2 separate regions of the Homo sapiens genome follow, and region 1 is linked to region 2. The links come from fine-mapping of genetic effects on gene expression. A gene starts in region 2. The other region holds a variant in brackets. All regions are shown on one strand. Distances are between the middles of the regions.

What was found.
Region 1: its variant is fine-mapped to the expression of KLK6 in tibial nerve (GTEx, PIP above 0.99).

What each region holds. Positions count from the first base shown.
Region 1 is chr19:50,985,256-50,997,439 of GRCh38, reverse strand. KLK8 (kallikrein related peptidase 8) reads left to right here. Exons shown (of 6, transcript NM_007196.4): 6 at 1,226-1,432. The coding sequence ends at 1,381. Among named protein-coding and RNA genes, the nearest start is that of KLK7, 7.4 kb to the right of the region's middle. RefSeq lists an enhancer at 2,933-3,227 and a silencer at 6,781-6,981. The variant G/A (reference allele first, on the strand shown) is at 4,987.
Region 2 is chr19:50,965,815-50,977,686 of GRCh38, reverse strand. KLK6 (kallikrein related peptidase 6) reads left to right here and starts at 8,096. Exons shown (of 7, transcript NM_002774.4): 1 at 8,096-8,197; 2 at 9,096-9,146; 3 at 9,575-9,622; 4 at 10,362-10,518. The coding sequence starts at 9,583. LOC105372442 (a long non-coding RNA gene) reads right to left here. Exons shown (of 7, transcript XR_007067308.1): 3 at 10,199-10,362; 4 at 9,334-9,414; 5 at 4,627-4,727; 6 at 4,354-4,506; 7 at 2,961-3,027. KLK7 (kallikrein related peptidase 7) reads left to right here. Exons shown (of 6, transcript NM_005046.4): 6 at 1-1,219. The coding sequence ends at 151.

The DNA of each region.
Region 1 (12,184 bases), 20 kb before region 2:
GCTAGAGTTTAGACGAGTTGCCTGCTCTCTGGTTCCCAGCATTACATCGTGGAATTTGTGCCGACTTTACCACCGGCCCGGTGGTCAGCCACTTTTCTTTGAGACCGGGCTAGAATCCCAAGGCTGGTTCCCTTCTCCTGTGATTGGTTCCTTGGGAGACAATGGTGTCTTCCCAGTTGGCTGGAGTAAATGGTGCCATTGACTTCAGTGCTTCCTCAATGAGCTCCAATCCCTTTCTCTTGGGATTTGTCATAGATATAACTCTCTCTTCTAACTGCAACTTCGTTGTTCCTAGCACTTTCCCCTGGCTTTGTCCACTTCCTGGAAGCCCCACCACCTTTGCCAATGACTGGTCCCTAAATACAATGCTTTCTTCCCCATTGGCCAAAAATGGAGTCGTTTCCATCAGCGATACTGCCATGAAAGCCAGTCTCTGGATTGTTCTGTAGAGATAGTGGTCTCTTCCACAAATATTTCAGCCATGGTCTCTTGGGGATATGGTGTGTGTGTGTGTGTGTGTGTGTGTGTGTGTGTGTGTGTGTGTGTCCATAAGAATCTTGATCCTTTCTCCTATGTTTGGCAACTGCAATCAATGATGCCTTCACTATTGGCCAGGAACAGAGGAAACTTCAGCTCAGTCCTCTCCAAGTAATCCCTACTGTCTTCTCCCTGGATTGGACCCTCGAGAACTCTTTTTTTTTTTTTTTTGAGACAGGGTCTCGCTCTGTCCCCCAAGCTGGAATGCAGTGGCACAATCTTGGCTCACTGCAGCCTCTGCCTCCCAGTTCAAGCAATTCTCCCACCTCAGCCTCCCGAGTAGCTGTGATTACAGGTGTGCACCACCACACCCAGCTAGTTTTTGTATTTTTAGTAGAGACAGGGATTCACCATGTTGGCCAGGCTGGTCTGGAACGCCTGACTTCAAGTGATCTACCGCCTCGGCCTCCCAAAGTGCCGGGATTGCAGGTGTGAGCCACCAAGCCTGTCTGGGATTTCATTCTTTCCCCTCTTCTGTCAGTGTTTTGACCACTACCCTTAGACACCATGTCTGTCTGTACATGGAAGCCCCAAGCCCTGTCCTGACTGGTCTCAGGGGACAATGCTTTTACCCCCATTGGCTACAGGGGACCAATCATGCCAAAGAACTGGTAAAACGCTGGGACAGCAGGAAAAGGGACGTTGTGGACATCTCAGATGCAAGGCTGTTCTCATTCTCCCTGTCTAGGGCGATTCTGGAGGCCCCCTGGTGTGTGATGGTGCACTCCAGGGCATCACATCCTGGGGCTCAGACCCCTGTGGGAGGTCCGACAAACCTGGCGTCTATACCAACATCTGCCGCTACCTGGACTGGATCAAGAAGATCATAGGCAGCAAGGGCTGATTCTAGGATAAGCACTAGATCTCCCTTAATAAACTCACAACTCTCTGGTTCCTTGCCTGTCTCTGTTTTGGCCCTGTGGGGAGGGCTGGATGGGGATCCGGGATTGTTCCTGCTGGCAGACTAGGTGGGGATGTGCAGAAACCAAGTTCTCATGGTCACTTTGGCCATCACCACTGCCTAAAGTGATCCCTCGTTTTCTGGAAGAACTTGGGTAAGAGCTTTATTTCAGGGGAGAAAATACATACAAAGGTCTTCAAACATTCAGTGGGCTGGTATGTGAAAGACAGTTTTGAAAGAGTTTGTGTTTAGTTTTCCTGAGCAAAGCATTTACAAGCTTTGGAGATAAAATTTTCCCCCTTTAAAAAATAATTGGCCAGGTGCGGTGGCTCAAGCCTGTAATTTCAGCACTTTGGGAGGCCGAAGCGGATGGATCACCTGCGGTTAGGAGTTCGAGACCAGCCTGGCCAACATGGCAAAACCCCGTCTCTACTAAAAATACAAAAATTAGCAGGGTGTGGTGGTGGGCATCTGTAAACTCAGCTACTCAGGAGGCTGAGGCAGAAGAATCGCTTGAACCCAGGAGGCGGAGGTTGCAGTGAGCCAGGGATCATGCCATTGTACTCCAGCCTGGGTGACAAGAGCAAGACTCGGTCTCAAAATAAATAAACAAATAAATTAATAATAATAATTGTGCCAGGTATGGTGGCTCATGCTTGTAATTCCAGCACTTTCACAGGCTGAGGTGGGAGGATCACTTGAGCCCAGGAGTTCAAGACCAGCCTGGGCAACAATGTAAGACCTCATCTCTATTTTTATTTAAAAAAAAAGAAAAAAAGAAGAAAAGGGAAAACATTGGGAGATATGCATAGAAAAGAGTGCAGAAAATATATGAACAGCTTAAATATTCACAAATGAACAACCATGAAACCACCACTCGGGTCAAAAATCTTGAGAGCTCCCAAAAATCCAGATAGAACTCTTTCTCACAGCCTAGAGCCATCTGGTGGTGTCTGCTGTGGTAGAAGGAAATGAGTGGTGTGTCCAAATTGAAGTGTGACGCAAAGGGCATTTGGGAAAGTTTTCATTAAAGCAAAGGCTTAACATAACTTGTTTTAGGGAAAGATGAGTGTGGAGGGGGTAGTTATTACAAGGATATAGTCACTCTTCTAGTGGTGCAGGCCAGGTGGGCCCAAAACTGGAGCTTAGCCAGGGAGGGTTCCTGGCTTTGTCCAGGAAATAATTCAAGGGCAACCCAGTGGTGTTAGTGACTTTTCTTGAAACAGTACTGCACAGTAGCAGAGGTACTGCTCTTTGCAGAGCAGGGCTACCCCATAGGCATTGAGCACAAAGTAGCAGCTCAGGGCCAGTTCTGTAGTCATATTTAGTCCCATTTTCAATTACATGCAAATTAAGGGGTGGGTTATTCAGAAATTTCTAGAAAAGGGCTGATAAATTTTGGGTGTTGTCATGGCAGTGGCAAACTGTCATGGTGCTGGTGTGCACGTCTTATGGAGATGTGCTTTTGGTGCCTTTTCCCTGTTCCAGCTGTCTTCAATCTAGTCCAGAGTTAAACCCCGCCTCCTCCTTCACTAGGATCTTTAGAAAATAGTCTCATGAAAGAGAATCTGATTCATCTAGCTCACCTTTTCTTCTTCAGCCACATCATTGGTCACTGAATGGCCAATCATTTGATGGCATCCCAGTCAGGTGACCAAATCTTAGCCAATCAGTGGCTACTTGGAGTCATGTGATATGAAACATGGCCACTTAGTGCTATGGGAAGGCAATTCTCCACAAGGGGCGTGGGTGTGTGAGATACCTTGCATTCATCAATCTCCCTGATGCTTTATGACAGTTCCCCCATACCAGAAATCCTGAGGAAGTCTTTCAAGCATGGCATTAAACTTCTGATGCCAGGGATGCATTTCTGGGGGGGACATCTCAACTCAAAGAATTGTTTTATAATTTTTATTATGGAAAATTTCAAACACATGCAAAATAGAATAACATAATGTGTCTTCATATACCACCATCCAACTTCGATAATGAATGCAAGGTCCGGTGCAGTGGCTCACGCCTGTAACCCCAGCACTTTGAAAGGCCGAGGCACGAGGATTGCTTGAGCCCAGGCATTCAAGACCAGTCTGGGCAACATAGGGAGACTGGTCTCTACAAAAGATTAAAAAATTAGCTGGGCATGGTGGCATGCGTCTGTGGTCCCAGCTACTCAGGAGGCTGAGGTGGGAGGATCACTTGAGCCTGAGAGGTTGAGACTGCAATGAGCTATGATTGTACCACTGCACTCCAGCCTGGGTAACAGAGTGAGACCCTATCTCAAAAAAAAAGTTAATGCAAAACCAATTATTGTTTCACCTATACTCCCACCACACACTTCCCTAATGCCAGAATATTTTGAAGCAATCTCAGTCACCACAACATCTCATTCTTAAATATTTTATTATGCATTTTTAAAACAGGGGATGGCAAATTACAGCTGTTGGACCAAATCTCCTGAGCTAAATTTTTTTTTTTTTTTTTTTTTTTTGAGATGGAGTTTCGCTCTTGTTGCCCAGGCTGGAGTGCAATGGCGTGATCTCGGCTCACCGCAACCTCCGCCTCCCTGGCTCAAGCAATTCTCCTGCTTCAGTCTCCTGAGTAGCTGGGATTACAAGCATGCACCATCACGCCCGGCTAAAATTTTTTGTATTTTCAGTAGAGACAAGGTTTCTCTATGTTGGTCAGGCTGGTCTTGAACTCCCGACCTCAAGTGATCTGCCTGCCTCCACCTCCAAAAGTGCTGGGATTACAGGCGTGAGCTTGATAAGGAATAGCAACAAAAAATTTGTACTAAATTATCATTACTACATTTTGAATTTCATCAATTAAAAATTGTGAAATTTTATTTTCTTTCCTGCTATTAAATATCTACATAATATCTTCCATTTTTCTCTCTTGGTCCACATAAGCTAAAATATTTACTCTCTGGCCCTTTATTTTAAAAATTTGCCAATCCTTGTTCCAAAAGAGACTCGTTTTAAACATAACCAACTTACATTATCACACCTTACACAGTTGATACTTTCTTAGTATCATCCAATGCCAAGGAGATTTTTTTCCTTTTTGAGACAAGGTCTTACTCTGTCACCCAGGTTACAGTACAGTGAGCATTGCACAAACAATGCTTAAGGCAGTTTCTACCTCCTGGGTTTCAGCCATCCTCCCACCTCAGCCTCCTGAGTAGCTGGGACCACAGGCATGTGCCACCACGCCCAGCCATTTTTTTTTTTTTTTCAGTAGAGCTAGGACTCTACCATGTTGCCTAGGCTGGTCCAGGAGATACTTTAATGTCTCCAGTGGAACATAAGCCTGAAAAGACTTGGGGATTGATTTACTCAATCTTAGGTACTAAGGAGGGGCATGGAGGGAACATAGCAGCTACTAACAGAAACAAAAATCTCCTTTCTCCTGGCATCTTGATATTAATCCCAGGGAGGAACTCTAATTGGTCCAGTTTGAACTGGGCCCACCCCTTGAATCTATCATTGTTGCCAGAGAGAAAACACTGATCTTGTTGACTTGGCCTGGGTCATTTCTCCGCCTCAGTG[G/A]GTGGGTGGAGTTGGAGAACTACGATTGACAGTTTCACCAGAACTATAAGAAATAAGGCAGCATCTCCCCCAAAAGAAATGGGGTTCTGCCGGAAGGTGGAGGTTGCAGTGAGCTGAGGTCGCACCACTGAACTCCAGCCTGGGTGACAGAGTGAGACTCTGTCTCAAAAAAAAAAAAAAAAAAAAAAAAAAAAAAAAAAGAAAGAAAGAAAGAAATAAGGAGGAAGAGAATCCAGGAAGTATGAAACAATGGGCCATCAGAACCCATGGGCTGAGTCAGGAGGTACGAGGGTCACAGTGTTCAGAATCCCTCAGGGAAAGGCATAGCTGGCAAGATTATCAGATGCCAGTTCTCAGGTGTGATCATAAGGTGGAAGATGAGTCATTTAACAAAGGTTCAGGACATAGGTCTGAGGACGATGGAGGTATGGGGCTGGGTGTCTGGATGACACTTAGCAACAGGTGCCAGGACTAAATGCAAAGGGCACAGGGGGCCTGGATATGGGCCTCTCTCTGACATGGGGGTATGCATCATTAATAGGCTGAGGGCGATCCAAGTCTGTTTTGAACCAAATGAGACTCAGAGGGTACATGTGGATGTAACAAGGAAATTTCCTTCTCAGAGTATGGATTTGTGCAGTAGTGATACCATAGGCCTTTGAATCCCAATGTTCAAATTCTGGCTTTTTTTTTTTTTTTTTTCCTGAGATGGAGTCTTGCCCTGTCACCCAGGCTGGAGTGCAGTGGTGCAACCTCGGCTCACTGCAACCTCTGCTTACTGGCTTAAGTGATTCTCCTGTCTCAGCCTCCTGAGTAGCTGGGAGTATAGGCACATGCCACCACATCCGACTAATTTTTTGTATTTTTAGTAGAGATGGGGTTTCACCATGTTTGCCAGGCTGGTCTCGAACTCCTGACCTCAAGTGATCCATCCACTTCGGCCTCCCAAAGTGTTGGGATTACAGGCTTTAGCCACCACGCCTGGCTGAATTCTGACACTTCTGACTCCTCAGCTCTGTGACTTTGCTCAAGTGATCTAGCCTTTTTTAAACCTCCATTTTCTCATCTATAAAATGGGGATGATGGGGCAGGCGGCAAAAAATAAAGGTAAAATGGGGATGACAATCCTCACCTGGACCAATGTGAGGAATACAGACACACCACACTAAATGTAGGGGGGAAAATGGGAGCTGCTTCTTCATTCCGTGGGTGATGGGCTGAGGGAACTCATGTTAATTCACTGGCTGTTATGTGCCCATCAATTTTCCATTCATAATTTTATTTAATCCTCTCATTTGCCTCGGTAAATAGGTTTTGCTCTCCTCCACTTTGGGGAGGGGCAAAGTCTGACTCAGAAAAATGAAGTCACTTACCCGAAGTCACAGGGTGGGCAACCAGGATTCAAAGCTGGGTTGAAAGTCCAAGTTCTTTCTAGTTCTTTCTGTCACACTGCATGGTGGAACAGCTCAGGGATCAAGGCAGGACTGAATCTAAGGCCTGTGGACCTGTGGATGCCAGAAGTTTGCAGACTAGTATTTATTTAAGTACCTCCTGTGTTCTCCGGTCTGGGCGGGGTGCTGGAAAAAAAAAAAGAACCCCACACACATTTCCTCTGCTTGTGATGACCAGTGTTTGGCAACAAAATCAGGTTAAATAATTAGGAATATAATTTACAGAATGATAGATGATGAAAAGCAGAGGATAGACGTTTTGGTGACTTAGGAGTGAATAACAGGGCTCTAGAGTAGCCTGGCTCCTTCCTCTTTCTAACAGATACTAAGGAGGCAGAGGACTGAGGGAGGAGAGAATCTAAGGATGAAGATGCAGGGAGTAGATAATACACTGGAAGTCTTGCTACCATTTCTGTCTTTGAGAAGCCAGGAAGGAAAGATACAGATTGCTGAATCATGGAGCTGTGAGGTCAACTGGGCTGGAGTCTGCTTCTCCTTGATTTGGGAGCCCAGGTCAGGAATGTTGACACCCTTCACGACCAGATTGCTGCTGTGGAATGGGCAGGGCTAGATGTCCAAGTTCGGGGATCTGATTTTGGATTCGATGACAGTAAATGTCTCAGAAGATTTTGGGACTCGGCTTGAGTTGAGTTAGTATAGCATCAATGTTAGCAAGATATTCGTTGGCAGACTTTATTTTAGAGTTTTTGTAAAATGAAGAGTCAAAGTTGTGTGGTGAGCTGGAGAAATAAAAATGGAACTGGGAAAAGAATTGGGGATGGAAATGAGAATGGGATTTTAGGTAGCAATTGGGTTGAGGATGAGAATAGGGGTGGGATGGGGTGAGAGTGTTAGAATTGGTGTTGGATGTGAGGGAATGGGTTCATGGGGGAGGATATGAATGTGGGCTTCCTAGAATATGATGGGAATGGAGACTAATGTCTGAATTATCCCGTGGCAGGCTTGATACTCAGGCTATGGTGACATTCACTGCTCAGGTCAAGGTTGAGTTTGGCTTATGGCTAATGGTTCAGGGTTAAGGTCAAGGGTCAGGAGGGTTAAGTTTGATTGAGGTCTGGATCCTAGCCTGAGTTGATATTTGGAGTCAAGAACTCAGTCAAGATTTAGGTTATTGGTTGAGATACAAATTGGGGTTCATCAAGGATAAAGCAGAATTTGAGGTTCAGGATTGGGTACAGATTAAGGTTTGGGGTTAAGACTGGGGCTTACTAAAGAGTCAAAAAAACAATAGATGTTGGCATGGATGTGATGAAAAGGGAACACTTATACACTGCTGGTGGGAATGTAAAGTAGTACAACCTCTGTGGAAAACAGTATGGTGATTTCTCAAAGAACTAAAAGTAGATCTACAATTCAATCCAGCAATCCCACTACTGGGTATCTACCCAAAGGAAAAGAAGTCACTATATCAAAAAGACACATACACACGTATGTTTATCGCAGTACAATTCACAATTGCAAAGATATGGAACCAAAGTAAGTGCCCATCAACTGATGAGTGGATAAAGAAAATGTGATGTGTATGCACCACGGAATACTACTCAACCATAGAAAGAATCAAATAATGTCTTTTGAAGCAACTTGGATGGAGTTGGAAGCCATTATTCTAAGTGAAGTAACTCAGGAATGGAAAACCAAATGCCTTACGTTCTCATGTGTAAGTGGGAGCTAAGCAGTGGGTACCAAGTGGTATAATGGACACTGGAGACTCAGAAGGGGGAGGGTATGAAGAGGATAAGGGATAAAACACTATAAATATTGGGTACAATATACACTACTTGGGTGATGGGTGCACTAAAATCTCAGACTTCACTGCTATACGATACATCCATGTAACCAAAAGCCACTTGTACCCCGAAAGCTATTGAAACAAACAAAAAGGCTGGGGCTTATGTCAAAATACGTGTTGGGAGTTGTGTCAAAGTAAAGGTTGGATTTAGGGTTCTGCTTGAAGTCAGGGTCTGAGGTCTTTTCTTGTCATATCAGAACCATTTGACCACATCTACCATGTCTTCTCAATGAATGGCATCACTGTCCATCGAGCAACAGACTTTGAAATCTTAACATCTTCCACTACCTCAACACAACCTTCATTCAATCCATCACCAAGGCTTGTTGATTCTCTCTCCTAAGTGCATTTTGAACCCATGTACTTAACATCGTCTCCACCTTTCAACCACCTGTATCCAAGTCACCATCTTCCCTCATCTAGACAACAACAATGACTTCCCCCATGGTTGCCCAGTATCTTCACATCCCACCCAAATCCAGCCTTCATACAGTAGCTAGGTTGATGTTTTGAAAATACAAATCTTGTTATGTTATTTCTCTGACTAAGGTTCAAATAGTTCTTCATTATCCACAGGATAAAGCAAGACTCACAATGACATACAGAGCTCGTCATTATCTGGTCCCAGTTAACCTCTGGCCTCCGAGCTCCAGCAATAATGCCTTGGGCCTTTGCACATGCTCTTTTCTCTACACAACACACTCCCCATTCTCCTCCCATTTTCTTCTAGTTACCAGAAGAAATTTTCTTCTAGTTACCAGAAGAAATTTTCTTCTAGTTTACTATTTCTAGTTACTAGAAGATTTCTTCTAGTCTACTTCTAGTTCCTAGAAGATTTCTTCTAGTTTAATATTCTTTCAAATCTCAGCTCATAGTCAATTCCTGGGTCTAACCCCTCTGGAAGTGCCTTCATAATACCCTGCACCTGTCTTTCAGAGCATGCCTTGTAGTTGTAATTTTACACTTGTTTATGAATTGACTGTATTTCTTTTACATGACACTATCAGCTCCTTGAGGGAAGAGACACTATCTAGGTTTGCACACCATTGTATCCTCATTGGTAGATAGCTACCACCCAATCCATATTTGTTAAATATATAAAGGATTGGTGTTAAACTATTGCATAAACAATCAACAACTTTTCCCTAAAAAATAAGAAATCCACTGTATAGAAGAAAAACTAAGAAAAAATTAAATTTAGATGAGAGGTAGTCAGCTATAGGATCCAAATTACTAATTTGTTTTTTTAAAAAAGACTATTCTAAAAATTAAATTGGTCATCTTCACATTAACAATGGCCAAAATGGGATATGGGCTGAAATGGGATATGGGGATGAGGGTTGGGAAGAGAGCTAAGACTGGAGGCATGGTTGAGTTTGTTGATTTATGTGGCTTCAAGATATGGAATCAAGTTAGAATCGGATTTGGATTTGTGGCTTGGGATCAGATTTGGGATCTGAGTCAATATTCTGATTGAACATTGAGGTCTTATAAAGATGATTTTGGCTACAAGGACCAAGCAACTCTAACCCAGAAGGGGAATCTGAAAAATCATGACATGAAGAGGCTCCATCGTTGGTTAATTCACCAGCTCAGTGACTTCATCAAAGACCCAGCTGATCCTCACCTCTCTGGTGGGCTACCTGCAGTGTTTTGACTTAGTCCTCTGGTCACTTCCCTCTGTGGTCCCTGGGGTGCTGCCACAGTTCCAGAATTTGCATCCAGAAAAGACACCATCTAGCAGAAGAAAAAAGTCCCCTTTCAGTGCCTCTTTTTGAAAATGAGAAAGTCTTTCCTAGAAGTGCCTCAGTGGTCTTCCCCTCCTCCTCATTGGCCAGAAGAACAGCACATGTCCATTTTCCAACTAATTAAGCAAACGAAATATGGCTTCAATGCTTGGTTCATTGAGGCTTATAGTCCTGATGAGGATAAAGTATTATCCAAACAAAATGGAGCCTCTGATAGAAAGGCAGAAGGAGTGAATGCCTGGGGACACAACAATAATGTCTACTATTATGGGTCAAATGTAGAATCGAGTTGGGGTGCCAGGCGTGGTGGCTCACACATGTAATCCCAGCACTTTGGGAGGCTGAGGAAGGCAGATCACCTGAGGTCGGGAGTTAGGGACCAGCCTGACCTACATGGAGAAACCCCATCTCTACTAAAAAAAAAAAAAAAAAAAATTAGCCAAGTGTGATGGTACATGCCTGTAATCCCAGCTACTCGGGAGGCTGAGTCAGGAGAATTGCTTGAACCTGGAAGGCGGAGATTGCAGTGAGCTGAGATCGCACCACTGCACTCCAGCCTGGGCAATAAGATCAAAACTCCATCTCAAAAACAAAAACAAAACAAAACAAAGCAAAAAAAAGAATTGAGTTGGGGTCAGGATTGAGATAAGTTTTAGGTCCAGGGTGGAGAAATAAATCCCATTTTGGGGATATAATTTAGAGGTTGAGGTCAATTCCAACTTTAGAAGTGTGTCCAACAATGGTTCCTGTCTTACTCAAAATAAAAGCCAAAGACCTTTCAGACCGCATGTCATCAGAGTCCTGTTATATTTCTGGCCTCATCACCTGCCCTCATCTCCTTTGGTCACTCTGTATTGGTCGCAGTGATTTGTCTGCTGAGGCACTTCAGATATGCTCCTTGGCTAACACACCTGCCTGCTCGCTTTGCCTGGAACTCACTACCTTCAAGCAGCCACCTGGATCCCTCCACCATCTCCTTCAAGACTTTGCTCAAATATCACCTTCACGTGGGGTCTTTGCAGCCAACCTTCCTGATATTATAACCTCAGGGATCCTCGAGGGTAGAGGGAATCAGTAACTCCCCAACCCTCTTCCTTGCTTGGATTTTCCCTTATAGCGCTTACAACCACCTAACAAACTCTACATTTTATTTGCTTATTTTTGTGCTGACCTGACAGTACAAAACAAAAACCTCTATGAAGACAGAAATTTTTCTCTGTTTTATCACTGCTGTGTCTCCAAGAGCCTGAATAGTTTCTGGCACAGAGTAGATGCTCAATGGATGCTGTTTGAATGACTACAATGAACAAAGATGAATGTACAAAGAAGTTCATCTCAGCATTATTATAATTAAAACTATCCAAGTGTATTTCAATTTGAGGCAGATGACATGCATCATGATACAAGTATAGTATGGAATATTACACAACCATTATAAAGGAAGGAAAAGTAATCTAAATGTACAAAGAGGGAAAAGTTTTCCTCTTTTTAAAAAATAAATGTTATTGTGTATATTTAAAGTGTACAATATGATCATATGCGATGTATATACATAGGACAATGATTACTATAGCTGAACAAATGAACATGTCCATCATCTCACATAGTTACCCATTTTCCTCCCCTGTGGCAAGAGCAGCTATAATCTACTCATTTAGCAAAAATCCTTGGCTGGGCGCGGTGGCTCAGGCCTATAATCGCAGTACTTTGGGAGGCCGAGGCCGGTGGATCACCTGAGGTCAGGAGTTGGAGAGCAGCCTGACCAACATGGTGAAACCCCATCTCTACTAAAAATACAAAAATTAGTTGGGCATGGTGGTGCACGCCTGTAATCCAGCTACTCAGGACTCTGAGGCAGGAGAATCACTTGAACACGGGGGAGTGGAGGTTGCAGTGAGCCGAGATCGTGCCATTGCACTCCAGCCTGGGTGACAGAGCCAGAGTCCATCAAAAAAAAAAAAAAATAAGAAAGATTCTTCTCTCCTCTATGTGTCCATGCAGTCTCATCATTTAGCTACCACTTGTAAGTAGGAACATGCCATATCTGGTTTTCTGTTCCTGCTTTAGTTTGTAAGGGTAATGGCCTCCAGCTCCATTCACGTCCCTACAAAGGACATGATCGTGTTCTTTTTTATGGCTACGTAGTATTCAATTGTGTATACGTACCACATTTTCTTAATCCAGTCTAT
Region 2 (11,872 bases):
CTCAGGGGGACCGTTGGTGTGCAGAGGTACCCTGCAAGGTCTGGTGTCCTGGGGAACTTTCCCTTGCGGCCAACCCAATGACCCAGGAGTCTACACTCAAGTGTGCAAGTTCACCAAGTGGATAAATGACACCATGAAAAAGCATCGCTAACGCCACACTGAGTTAATTAACTGTGTGCTTCCAACAGAAAATGCACAGGAGTGAGGACGCCGATGACCTATGAAGTCAAATTTGACTTTACCTTTCCTCAAAGATATATTTAAACCAACCTCATGCCCTGTTGATAAACCAATCAAATTGGTAAAGACCTAAAACCAAAACAAATAAAGAAACACAAAACCCTCAGTGCTGGAGAAGAGTCAGTGAGACCAGCACTCTCAAACACTGGAACTGGACGTTCGTACAGTCTTTACGGAAGACACTTGGTCAACGTACACCGAGACCCTTATTCACCACCTTTGACCCAGTAACTCTAATCTTAGGAAGAACCTACTGAAACAAAAAAAATCCAAAATGTAGAACAAGACTTGAATTTACCATGATATTATTTATCACAGAAATGAAGTGAAACCATCAAACATGTTCCAAAAGTACCAGATGGCTTAAATAATAGTCTGGCTTGGCACAACGATGTTTTTTTTCTTTGAGACAGAGTCTCTGTTGCTTGGGCTGCAATGCAGTGATGCAATCTTGGCTCACTGCAACCTCCGCCTCCTGGGTTCAAGTGATTCTCGTGCTTCAGCCTCCCAAGTACCTGGGACTACAGGTGTGCACCACCACACCAGGCTAATTTTTTGTGTATTTTTACTAGAGACAGGGTTTCACCATGTTGGCCAGCATGGTCTTGAACGCCTGACCTCAGATGATCCACCCACCTTGGCCTCCCAAAGTGCTGGGATTACAGGCATGAGCCACCACGGCCAGCCCACAATGATATTACAAACCTATTAAAAATGATACTTAGACAGAATTGTCAGTATTATTCAAGAACATTTAGGCTATAGGATGTTAAATGACAAAAGGAAGGACAAAAATATATATGTATGTGACCCTACCCATAAAAAATGAAATATTCACAGAATCAGATCTGAAAACACATGTCCCAGACTGCATACTGGGGTCGTCATGAGGTGTCTCCTTCCTTCTGTGTACTTTTCCTTGAATGTGCACTTTTATAACATGAAAAATAAAGGTGGGGAAAAAAGTCTGAAGATCTAAGATTGGAGAGAGGTGACCTTTCAGGAAGGGAGACTAGAAAGAAATATGTGCCTGGTTTTGAGCCCTGGTCCTGCCGGCCCTGTTCCAGGGCATATTTCCATTTCCCAGATCTCAGTTTTTCCTGTCTGTAAAATGGGAGAGAGAGGAAAGGATGGAGAGAGGAAGAAGGAAGGGAGGAGGGAGGAGAGAACAGGCCAACTTCATCAGCGTGGGAAGGGGTGTGAAAGTGTTTCTGAGCATCTCACGAGTGACAAGTGAGGAGGGAGGCTGGCGGTTTTCAGAGGGATTGGGATGACAGTAGACAGGACACAGGGGTCCCACGGGGGTCTGCCAGAAGTAAGCAAACAGTGCCGGAGGAAGATGGTGGCACCTGCTCCCCAAGAAGGGAGGGAAAGGAACCTCGGGAAGCGGGTAGGATGAGGGAGGAGTCCTCTGTGACTCAGAGCCTGGCCACAGCCCCAGCCATCTAACATCAAAGATCCTCTGTGTGGTCACACCTCAGACGCTGCTGACCGAGGAGCCACTCCAGCCCAGGACACGCCCTCCTACCTGTTCTTCCTGTTTTTCTCCCAGAATTCCCTCCCCACCAAGATCCTCCAGATCCTTCCCCTCCTTATCTCATCTCCCTCTGAGTCTCTCCTAACCCAGGCACCACAGCCCTGTCATATTGCAGAAATTCTGCAGCCGCTAATTCTGATTCTCCCATATAGGAGGCTAACACAGAAAACGCAGGAGTCCAGGCCCCCAGCCCCTCCTCCCTCAGACCCAGGAGTCCAGACCCCCCAGCCCCTCCTCCCTCAGACCCAGGAATCCAGACTCCCCCCAGCCCCTCCTCCCTCAGACCCAGGAGTCCAGAACCCCAGCCCCTCCTCCCTCAGACCCAGGAATCCAGACTCCCCCCAGCCCCTCCTCCCTCAGACCCAGGAGTCCAGACCAGCCCCAGCCCCTCCTCCCTCAGACCCAGGAGTGCAGGCCTGCCCCCACGAGCCCCTCCTCCCTCAGACCCAGGAATCCAGACTCCCCCCAGCCCCTCCTCCCTCAGACCCAGGAGTTCAGAACCCCCCCCACCAGCCCCTCCTCCCTCAGACCCAGGAATCCAGACTCCCTCCAGCCCCTCCTCCCTCAGACCCAGGAGTTCAGACCCCCCTGCCAGCCCCTCCTCCCTCAGACCCAGGAATCCAGACTCCCCCCCAGCCCCTCCTCCCTCAGACCCAGGAGTCCAGACTCCCCCCCAGCCCCTCCTCCCTCAGACCCAGGAGTCTAGACTACCCCCAGCCCCTCCTCCCTCAGACCCAGGAGTTCAGACCCCCCCCCCCGCCAGCCCCTCCTCCCTCAGACCCAGGAGTCCAGACCGCCCCCAGCCCCTCCTTCCTCAGACCCAGGAGTCCAGACTCCCCCCAGCCCCTCCTCCCTCAGACCCAGGAGTTCAGACCGCTCCCCGCCGCCAGCCCCTCCTCCCTCAGACCCAGGAATCCAGACTCCCCCCAGCCCCTCCTCCCTCAGGCCCAGGAGTCCAGATCCCCCCCAGCCCCTCCTTCCTCAGACCCAGGAGTCCAGACCCCCCGCCCCAACCCCTCCTCCCTCAGACCCAGGAGTCCAGGCTCCCCCCCAGCCCCTCCTTCCTCAGACCCAAGAGTCCAGACCCCCCGCCCCAACCCCTCCTCCCTCAGACCCAGGAGCCCAGGTCCCCAGCCCCTTCTGTTTCTGGGCCTGTCAAGTTTAAGAATGTCAAACATTTTCGACCAGTCATTCCCCTGAAGTTTTAGCAACATTTTCTCTCTCTTCTGCAAGGCACTCCAACATTCAATCTGGAATTTTAAAAAGTAACAAAACATTGCATTTGCACTAAGTCAGCCTGGAGATCCCTGGCCCTGGCCCTCTGCTCTCCTATACGCAAGCTACAGGTAGATTGGTTTGCAATGACTGAGATGGTACTAATGTTGATTTTTTTTAAGTAATTCATTTTTCTTTGGGTAAGCAGTATAGTGTGGTAGTTAAGGGACTAGCTCTGGATCTTGGCTTCTTGGGTTCAAATCCCAGTTCTAGTCCCTACAAGCTATTTTCCTTTAAGCTCATTACTTCCCCTGTCCCTGTTCCTTCATCCTTGAAATGGGAGAAAAAGCACCTACTTTCTAGGGTTATTACAGAGATTCAATAAGTTAATATACAGAAAGTGCTCAAACATTGTGTGGCACGAGGTAAGCCTTCCTTCAATGGTCATTGGTTTTAGTTTAGTTTAGTTTAGTTTAGTTTTTCTTTTTTTTTGAGACAAAGTCTTGCTCTTGTCACCCAGGCTGGAGTGCAATGGCGCGATCTCAGCTCACTGCAACCTCTGCCTCCCAGGTTCAAGTGATTCTCCTGCCTCAGCCTCCTGAGTAGCTGGTATTACAGGTGCCTGCCACCATGCCCGGCTAATTTTTGTATTTTCAGTAGAGACCAAGTTTCACCACGTTGGCCAGGCTGTCCTCAAACTCCTGACCTCAGGCAATCTGCCCGCCTTGACCTCCCAAAGTGCTGAGATTACAGGCATGAGCCACCGCGCCTGGCCCAGGCATTGGTTTTTATTGTTTATGACTTCTGGCACTTTTTTCTGCTTACAGTCTCATGAAGTTTCCTTATAATTTTTTTTTTCTTTTTTTCACATAGGGTCTTGCTCTATCATCCAGGCTAGAGTTTGGTGGCATGATCATAGCTCACTGCAGCCTCAGTCTCCTGGGCTCAAACAATCCTTTTGCCTCAGCCTTTCGAGTAGCTGGGACCATGCCTGGGCTGATTTTTTTTTTTTTTTTTAGTAGAGACGGGGTCTCACTATGTTGTCCAGGCTGGTCTCTAATTCCTGAGCTCAAGTAATCCTCCCACCTCAGCCCTCCAAAGTGCTGGGATTACAGGTGTGAACCACTGCACCGAGACAGAAGAATTTATTTAGTGAAGAGTTTTGCAGAGCAAGACAATCTGGAGCAAACTATCCAGTAAATAAGCATTCAAAGTATGCAGAGATGGCAAACCATGAAGGTCACCAGAGAAGAGGTAGAGTTAGAAATTTCTTTCTCTTCAAAGTCCCTCCACTCCCCACAGCCTAACACCTCCCTTCTTTCCCCACCCAGCTCTCAACAATTCCTCCCAAGTTCACTCACCTCGTACTGTCATAAGATAGACCCAGCCAGGCCACCAAGGGATGGGCCACATCCACGCCATGTTGGAAGCTGAGTTCCCATTCAGGCTCCACCATTTCCTGGATGTTTGATGATGAGCAATGAACTTCCCGTTCTGAGCCTCAGTTTTCTTATCTGTAAAATGGGAGTGGGTGTGATAAAGTCATTTAGTCATTTGGTCAGTCTTGCCTAAGGCTTCTTCTGGGCAAGGTCCTGTGTGGTTGCTTGGGACACAGGGATGAGTCAGTCCCGTACCTGCCCTCAAGGAGCTCACGGTCCAGTGGAAGAGATGACGAATGTCAATCCAGGTGGCCCCCCGTCCAGGTTGGGTTGAGGGAGACACCTGCTGTGGGAACCTACGTGAGAGAATGAGTAATCCAACTACAGCAGGTGGCAGCTGGGTGGTGTTCAGGGAAGGTTTCCTGGAGGAGGTAATGTCCAAGTAAAGACTTGAAGGACAGGTTATTGCCAGGAAAAGGTGGGGAAAACATGCTAAGAAGAGAGAATAGGCCAGGCACGGTGGCTCACGCCTGTAATCCCAGCACTTTGGGAGACCGAGGCAGGCAGATCACCTGAGGTCAGGAGTTCATGACCAGCCTGGCCAACATGGTGAAACCCCATCTCTACTAAAAATATAGGCATGGTGGTGTGTGCCTGTAATCCCAGCTACTCGGGAGGCTGAGGCTGGAGAATTGCTTGAACCCAGCAGGCGAAGAGAGATCGCGCCACATCACTCCAGCCTGGGCGACAGAGCGAGACTCCATCTCAAGAAGAAGAGGGAATAGCATTCAGTGAAGGGCCAGAGGCCAGAGGGCATGGCATGGGTCAGGGAAGCTTGATGTGTTCTAGAAAGCTGGAGCCACACGGAGACGTAGACATAGCTGTGTCATGCAGTGTGAGGGCCACTCACCACTCAGGACTCCTTTTAAAAAAATTTTTGACAGGGTCTGGCTCTGTCACACTGAAGTGCAGTGGCGTGATTATGGCTTACTGCAACCTGGGCCTCCAGGCTCAAGCAACTATCCCACCTCAGCCTTCTGCATAGCTGGGACCACAGATGTGTGCCACCACACCTAGGTAATTTTTTTCTTTTCTTTTTTTTGTTTTTTTTTTTAGAGATAGGGTCTCACTATATTGTCCAGGCTGGTCTCGAACTCCTAGGCTCAAGTGATCTTCCCACCTCTGCCTCCCAAAGTGCTTGGATTACAGGCATGAGCCACCTTGCCCAGCCATGTCAGGCTGGGGTGCAGTGGTATAGTCACAGCTCACTGCAGGCTCGACCTCCCAGGCTCAGCAATTCTCCCGCCTCAGCCTCCGGAGTAGCTGGGACTACAAGTGTGCACCACCACATCTGGCTAATTTTTTTACTTTTTGCAGAGATGGTTTCTCACTATGTTGCCCAGGCTGGTCATGAACTTCCGGACTCAAGCTATCTACCCACCTTGGCCTCTCAAAGTGCTGGGATTACAGACATGAGCCACCATGCCTGGCCTTAAATTTATTTTTTAATTGACAAGTAAAAATTGTATATATTTCTGGTGTATAACATCATGTTTGATATATGTATGTATATGTTGTGGAATGGCTAAACCAAGCTATTTAACATATGCATTATTTTACACCCTTATTTTTTGTGGTAAGGACACTTAAAAAATCTTCTGACTTAAAAAAAAAAGTATGGTGATTGGAAAATGTAAATGTGCATGCGTGCTTGGCATCACATTTCATTGGCCAGGACTTCCCTGGATGCTAAAGGTCCTCAAATGCCAGGCTGGGGGGCTGGGACTTGGTCCCAAGGGAGATGGGGACCCAGGGCACGTCTGTGAGAGGAGGGGCAAGGTCAGCACAAGGCACAGGAAGGTCTCTCTGGGGCAAGGGATACAGAGAACAGAGGGATCCTGGTCCAGGTGGGAGAGGTGCAGCTCTGAGTTGGGGTTGAGGGTGTGGGTACAGAGAGGAAGGGACCCCCCAGAGAGAGGAGGCAGAGGGATAGGGCCTGGTCACTGGGTTGTGCAACATCAGACTTGCTGTCTGTGAAGATAGCACGTCCTGAGAAGAAGGTGCTGAGGTCAGTGGGGACCAAATGTGAGAGGGAGCACCCGGAGAGTATACTGAATACCGAAGTAGTCTTCATCCCTGGAGTGATGGGGGGTGCACAATGCAAGATGACAATTAGATTCAATGCAAGACAAAGAAAAGGGTTGGCTGGGAACAGTGGCTCATGCCTATGGTCCCAGCTCCTGGGAAGACTGAGGCGGGAGGGTCGCTTGAGCCCAGGAGGGTTGAGGCTGCCACGAGCAAGGATCGTGCCACTGCACTCCAGCCTAGGCGACAGAACAAGACCTTGTCTCAAAAGAAAAAAGAACTTTTTTTTTTAAGTTACCTGTAGTGCCCAGCCCAAGCAGGTGCTGAGCCAGACTTCATTCCTATCATTGTCCTTATTACGCAGTGACTTCCCCCTCCTCATTTCTCTCCACTCTGCCACGCACACACCCTCACCCTCCAGCCCATACCAACCACCCCAACCACTGCCTGTGGTTTCCCATGTGCACCCAGGCCAGGCATTTTCACGGCCTTTCCTCCTGACCTACGCCTGGCTCAGCTTTCTAGGCCCAAGTTCAAAGACACCTCCCTAAATCTTCCCAGATCCCTCTGCTACTGCCCAGCACCACCATCTTATCACAGCCCCACGTCGTTCCCAAGTGCTCTCCGATTTCTGCTTAACTCCATGCCTCTCGCTGTGTGTCCGCATCTCATCAATAAGTCCTCAAGTCCTCTTCCATCCTGCTAGCTTCCTCATCGCTCGGGAATCATCCCCGCTACTTCCTGGGGAAACTGACTCCCTTCTGGGCACACACAGTGCTACCCCCGGGGAAATCTAAGAAGAGACCCAGGAGAAGATAAGCACGGAGAGTCAGAGAATCAAGGGGAAAGAAAGGGAGAGAGGCCGGGCACAGTGGCTCACACCTGTAATCCAGCACTTTGGGAGGCCAAGGTGGGTGGATCACCTGAGGTCAGGAGTTTGAGACCAGCCTGGCCAACATGGTGAAACCTCTTCCCTACTAAAAATACAAAAAACATTTAGCCGGGCGTGGTGGTGGGTGCCTGTAATCCCAGCTACTTGGGAAGCTGAGGCAGGAGAACTGCTTGAACTCAGGAGGCGGAGGTTGCAGTGAACTGAGATCACACCACTGCACTCCAGCCTGAGTGACAGAGCAAGACTCCGTCAAAAAAAAAGAAAGAAAGAAAGAAAAGAAGGAAGGAAAGAAAGAAGGAAGGAAGGAAGGGAGGAAGGGAGAGAGGAAGGGAGAGAGGAAGGGAGAGAGAGAAAAAAAGAGGGAGAGAGACACAAATACAGAGACTGAGATGGGAGAGAGAGAGAGATGGAAGCTCCCTCCCCTCCATGGCCAGGGAGACAGATGGAGCAAGAGACCTCAGGGGTGGGCAGACTTGGAGGAGAAGGACCAGGAGGATGTGGAGTGCCGAAATCTCCAGTCAGGGCCAGGTGGGCAGTCAGAGACTGCAAAGGAGGACTGTCAGACAGGGACAAAAGGAAGCCATTGATGTAACCGCCCTCCCGCCTGCCCGCCGGAAGAGAGGTTGAGGCCGGAGCTGCTGGGAGCATGGCACTGGGGTGCTGGGGGCGGACAAAGCCCGATTGTTCCTGGGCCCTTTCCCCATCGCGCCTGGGCCTGCTCCCCAGCCCGGGGCAGGGGCGGGGGCCAGTGTGGTGACACACGCTGTAGCTGTCTCCCCGGCTGGCTGGCTCGCTCTCTCCTGGGGACACAGAGGTCGGCAGGCAGCACACAGAGGGACCTACGGGCAGGTGTGTGAGTCACCCCAACCGCACTGAACCTGGGCAGGCTGCTTCCCAGTGCCGGAGGGCTCTAGAGCCCGGAGTGAGGGCCTGCAGGTCCCTGGGTGGCACAGAGAGTGCTGGGGGTGCAGGGAGGCCTGGGGCACCATCTGCTTGCCCCAGAGGCCGGAATTTGTCTTCAGACACTTTCTTTCTCCAAAACCCGGAGGTCTAAGGACTGAGCCGACTAGAACTTCCTCTGCCTCAGATTCAGGCCCCAGCCCCTCCTCCCTCAGACCCAGGAGTTTAGGTCCTAGCCCCTCCTCCCTCAGACCCAGGAGTCCAAGTTCCCACCTCCTCCCTCAGACTCAGGAGTCCAGGCCCCCAGCCCCTCCTCCCTCAGACCCAGGAGTCCAAGTTCTCACCTCCTCCCTCAGACCCAGGAGTCCAGGCCCCAAGCCCCTCCTCCCTCAGACGCAAGGGTCCAGGCCCCCAGCCCCTCCTCCCTCAGACTCAGGAGTCCAGGCCCCCAAGCCCCTCCTCCCTCAGACCCAGGAGTCCAGGCCCTCACTGCACTCAGGGACCAGTGCTCCCTTCCCTGGAGGCCTGGTCAGGGGTCACCAAGAGCAGAGCGTGGGGGCGGGAGGAATGTGTGTGGGAGGCCTGGGTAAGGAGGAAAAGGGTGTAGCCAGTCTCCTGGCTCAGGGACCTGAGAGACAGGGGTTAAAAGGACGTTCCAGAAGCATCTGGGGACAGAACCAGCCTCTTCCAGGGAGGCCTGGGAGCTGGGGGTGTGTGTCTGGCAGTCCCTGCAGCCCTGGGCTCTGCGGCCCCTGCGTCCTCCGCTTGGCTCTGCCACTGCATCTGAGTGTCTTCTCTCCTCACGGCTCCCCGCATTTCTAACTCTTTCTGCCTCCTCGTCTCAAAGCTGTTCCTTCCCCCGACTCAAGAATCCCCGGAGCCCGGAGGCCTGCAGCAGGTGAGATCACAGACATCACAGAACCTGCCGGGTGGGCGGGGTGGGTGGCCATTGCGCACAGAGCCAGGCTCCGAGGAAAACTCCCATACAGAGGAAGAACGCTAGGGCCCCCTAGGGTAACCCTCTCCTGTCGACAGGAAGGCAAATCAGTGCCCAAGAAAGTAGAAAGATCTAATCAGAATCTCACCATGGGTTACTGGACCAGTGGACGTAGTTCTGAATTCTCTTTGGCACTGTTTTCGTGGGATCCTCTGATGGAAGATGTGGGCTGAGGAAGAATAAATCAGGAGGCTAGATGGGAAGGACAGAGGTCAAGGCAGGAGACCATAGCAGGCCAGGAAGGAAGGAGAGGATGCAGAGGGAGCAGACAGAGGGATGGGGGGAGGGTCGAGGCAGTGACTAATGGACCATGTGGCTTCCCCTCTCAGGAGCGGCCATGAAGAAGCTGATGGTGGTGCTGAGTCTGATTGCTGCAGGTGGGGAAAGGGCATTTGGATGGGGGAGGCTTGCAGACAGGGTTGGGCTTGTTGATGGAGAAGAGGCTGGTATTGGGGATGGGGATATGCACAGGGTTGGGGTGGGGGAGCTTTGAAATGAGGAAGACGTTGGGGATTAGGCTAAGGGTGGGGAATACAGATAGGGAGGGTGGTGGGAGGTGGGTTTGAAGATATGAGGGTTTGGGGTGGGGTTGGCTTTAGGGATGGGGATCTAAACATAGAAGAGGTAGGAGGTAGGTTGGAAAGTTGGAGAGAGCCCGGGAATAGGGGATACAGTTGGGTTTGTAATGGGAATGGGGTAAGTTTGGGAGTGGAAATACAGAGAAGCTTTTTTTTTTTGAGACAGGGTCTCACTCTGTCACCCAGGCTGGAGTGTAGTGGCATGATCCATAGTTCACTGCAGACTTGAACTCTTGGGTCTCAAGTGACCCTCCCACCTCAGCCTCCCAAGTAGCTGGGACTACAGGCGTATGCCACCATACCCTGCTAATTTGTGTGTGTGTGTGTGTGTGTGTGTGTGTGTGTGTGTGTGGAGATGAGGTCTCACTGTGTTACCGAGGCTGGTCTCAAACTCCTGGGCTCAAGCGATCCTCCTGCCTCAGCTGGGATTACAGGCATAAGCCACTGCACCTGACCAATCTTGACTGGAGTTCATGTTGAGGGGGATGCGCTTGGTTTCTCCAGAACTCCTCTCTGACTCAGATCTTCTCTCCCTCAGCCTGGGCAGAGGAGCAGAATAAGTTGGTGCATGGCGGACCCTGCGACAAGACATCTCACCCCTACCAAGCTGCCCTCTACACCTCGGGCCACTTGCTCTGTGGTGGGGTCCTTATCCATCCACTGTGGGTCCTCACAGCTGCCCACTGCAAAAAACCGTGAGTCTACACTGTAAATGAACAGCAGATGCGACTGAACCCTGAGGGTGTCTTATAGATGTCAGGCAGGAGGTGACATAGGCATCCCCCCCATCCCAGCACGAGGCCATCTGATAGCCAGGTGCATTCGGCTGTTGCTTAATTGAGTACTTAATGTGTGCCAGGCCCTGCGGGCATAGCAGTGGAAAAGAAAATAAAAAAAAGAAAACAAAAAAAAACAAGCAAAATTGCTGTTTTCCTGAACTTACTTTCTAATGGGGGAATTGGATCATTTGGGGACCTGCAGGGCGTGATGGGCATTTGGATTTAATTCTGAGCACAGTAGGAAGCCACTGGGCAGTTTTGTTTTTGTTGTTTGTTTGTTTTTTGAGACACAGTCTCGCTCTGTCACCCAGGCTGGAGTGTAGTGGCATGATCTCAGCTCACTGCAACCTCTGCCTCCCAGGTTCCAGCGATTCTCCTGCCTCAGCACCCCAAGTAGCTGAGATTACAGGTGTGCACCACCTTGCCTGGCTAATTTTTGTATGTTTGGTAGAGACGGGGTTTCACCATGTTGGCCAGGCTGGTCTCGAACTCCTGACCTCAGGTGATCCGCCCGCCTCGCCCTCCCAAAGAGCTGGGATTACAGGCATGAGCCACCACCACACCCAGCCTGATTTACATTTTTACAAGCACCCTGGCTACCACGTGGAACGTGGTCTGGGCAAGAGAGAGGGAGGGAGGCCCACGTGGGGGCTGTTGCTTTCATCCGGCGACATAGGAGGGTGGCTTGAACCCAGGCGGTCGCAGTGGGGATGGAGGGATGTTGAATATCTTGGGATGTGGAATTCTGAGACTGAGCCAGCAGAATCTGGCAACGAGGAACAGGAGGGAGAGGAAGAAGCACGGCTGGCTTCCGTGTATTTGTCCTGAACAACTGGGTGTTTTGCCACGTCTTTCTCTGAGTTGTGGGAGAGGGAAAGAGAAACAGGCCGGGTGTAGGCAGGGGAGCATCTGACATTTTGCTTTAGCCACGATGAGTTGGAGATGCCGGGGAGATGTCCCAGCAGGGAGGCCAGGGAGGACTCTGGAGCTCAGAGGAGAGGTCAGGGCTGGAGGTTAAAATGAAGGCATCGTCAGCAAACAGGTGTATTTAAAGCCATGGGACTAGATGAGATCATCCAAAAAGCTGGCATAGTTGGAGGAGCTGGAGGGCCCAGGACAAAAACCCTGGGCGCTGATCCTCACTAGTCAGATTCACGACAGCTGCCACTTGTTTGATGCTAACTACCAATCAGGTGCTGAGTGAAACCATGTACACACCTTTCCTGGAATGCCCACCACAAGGGACTCTTGGCACCATTTTGCAAATGAG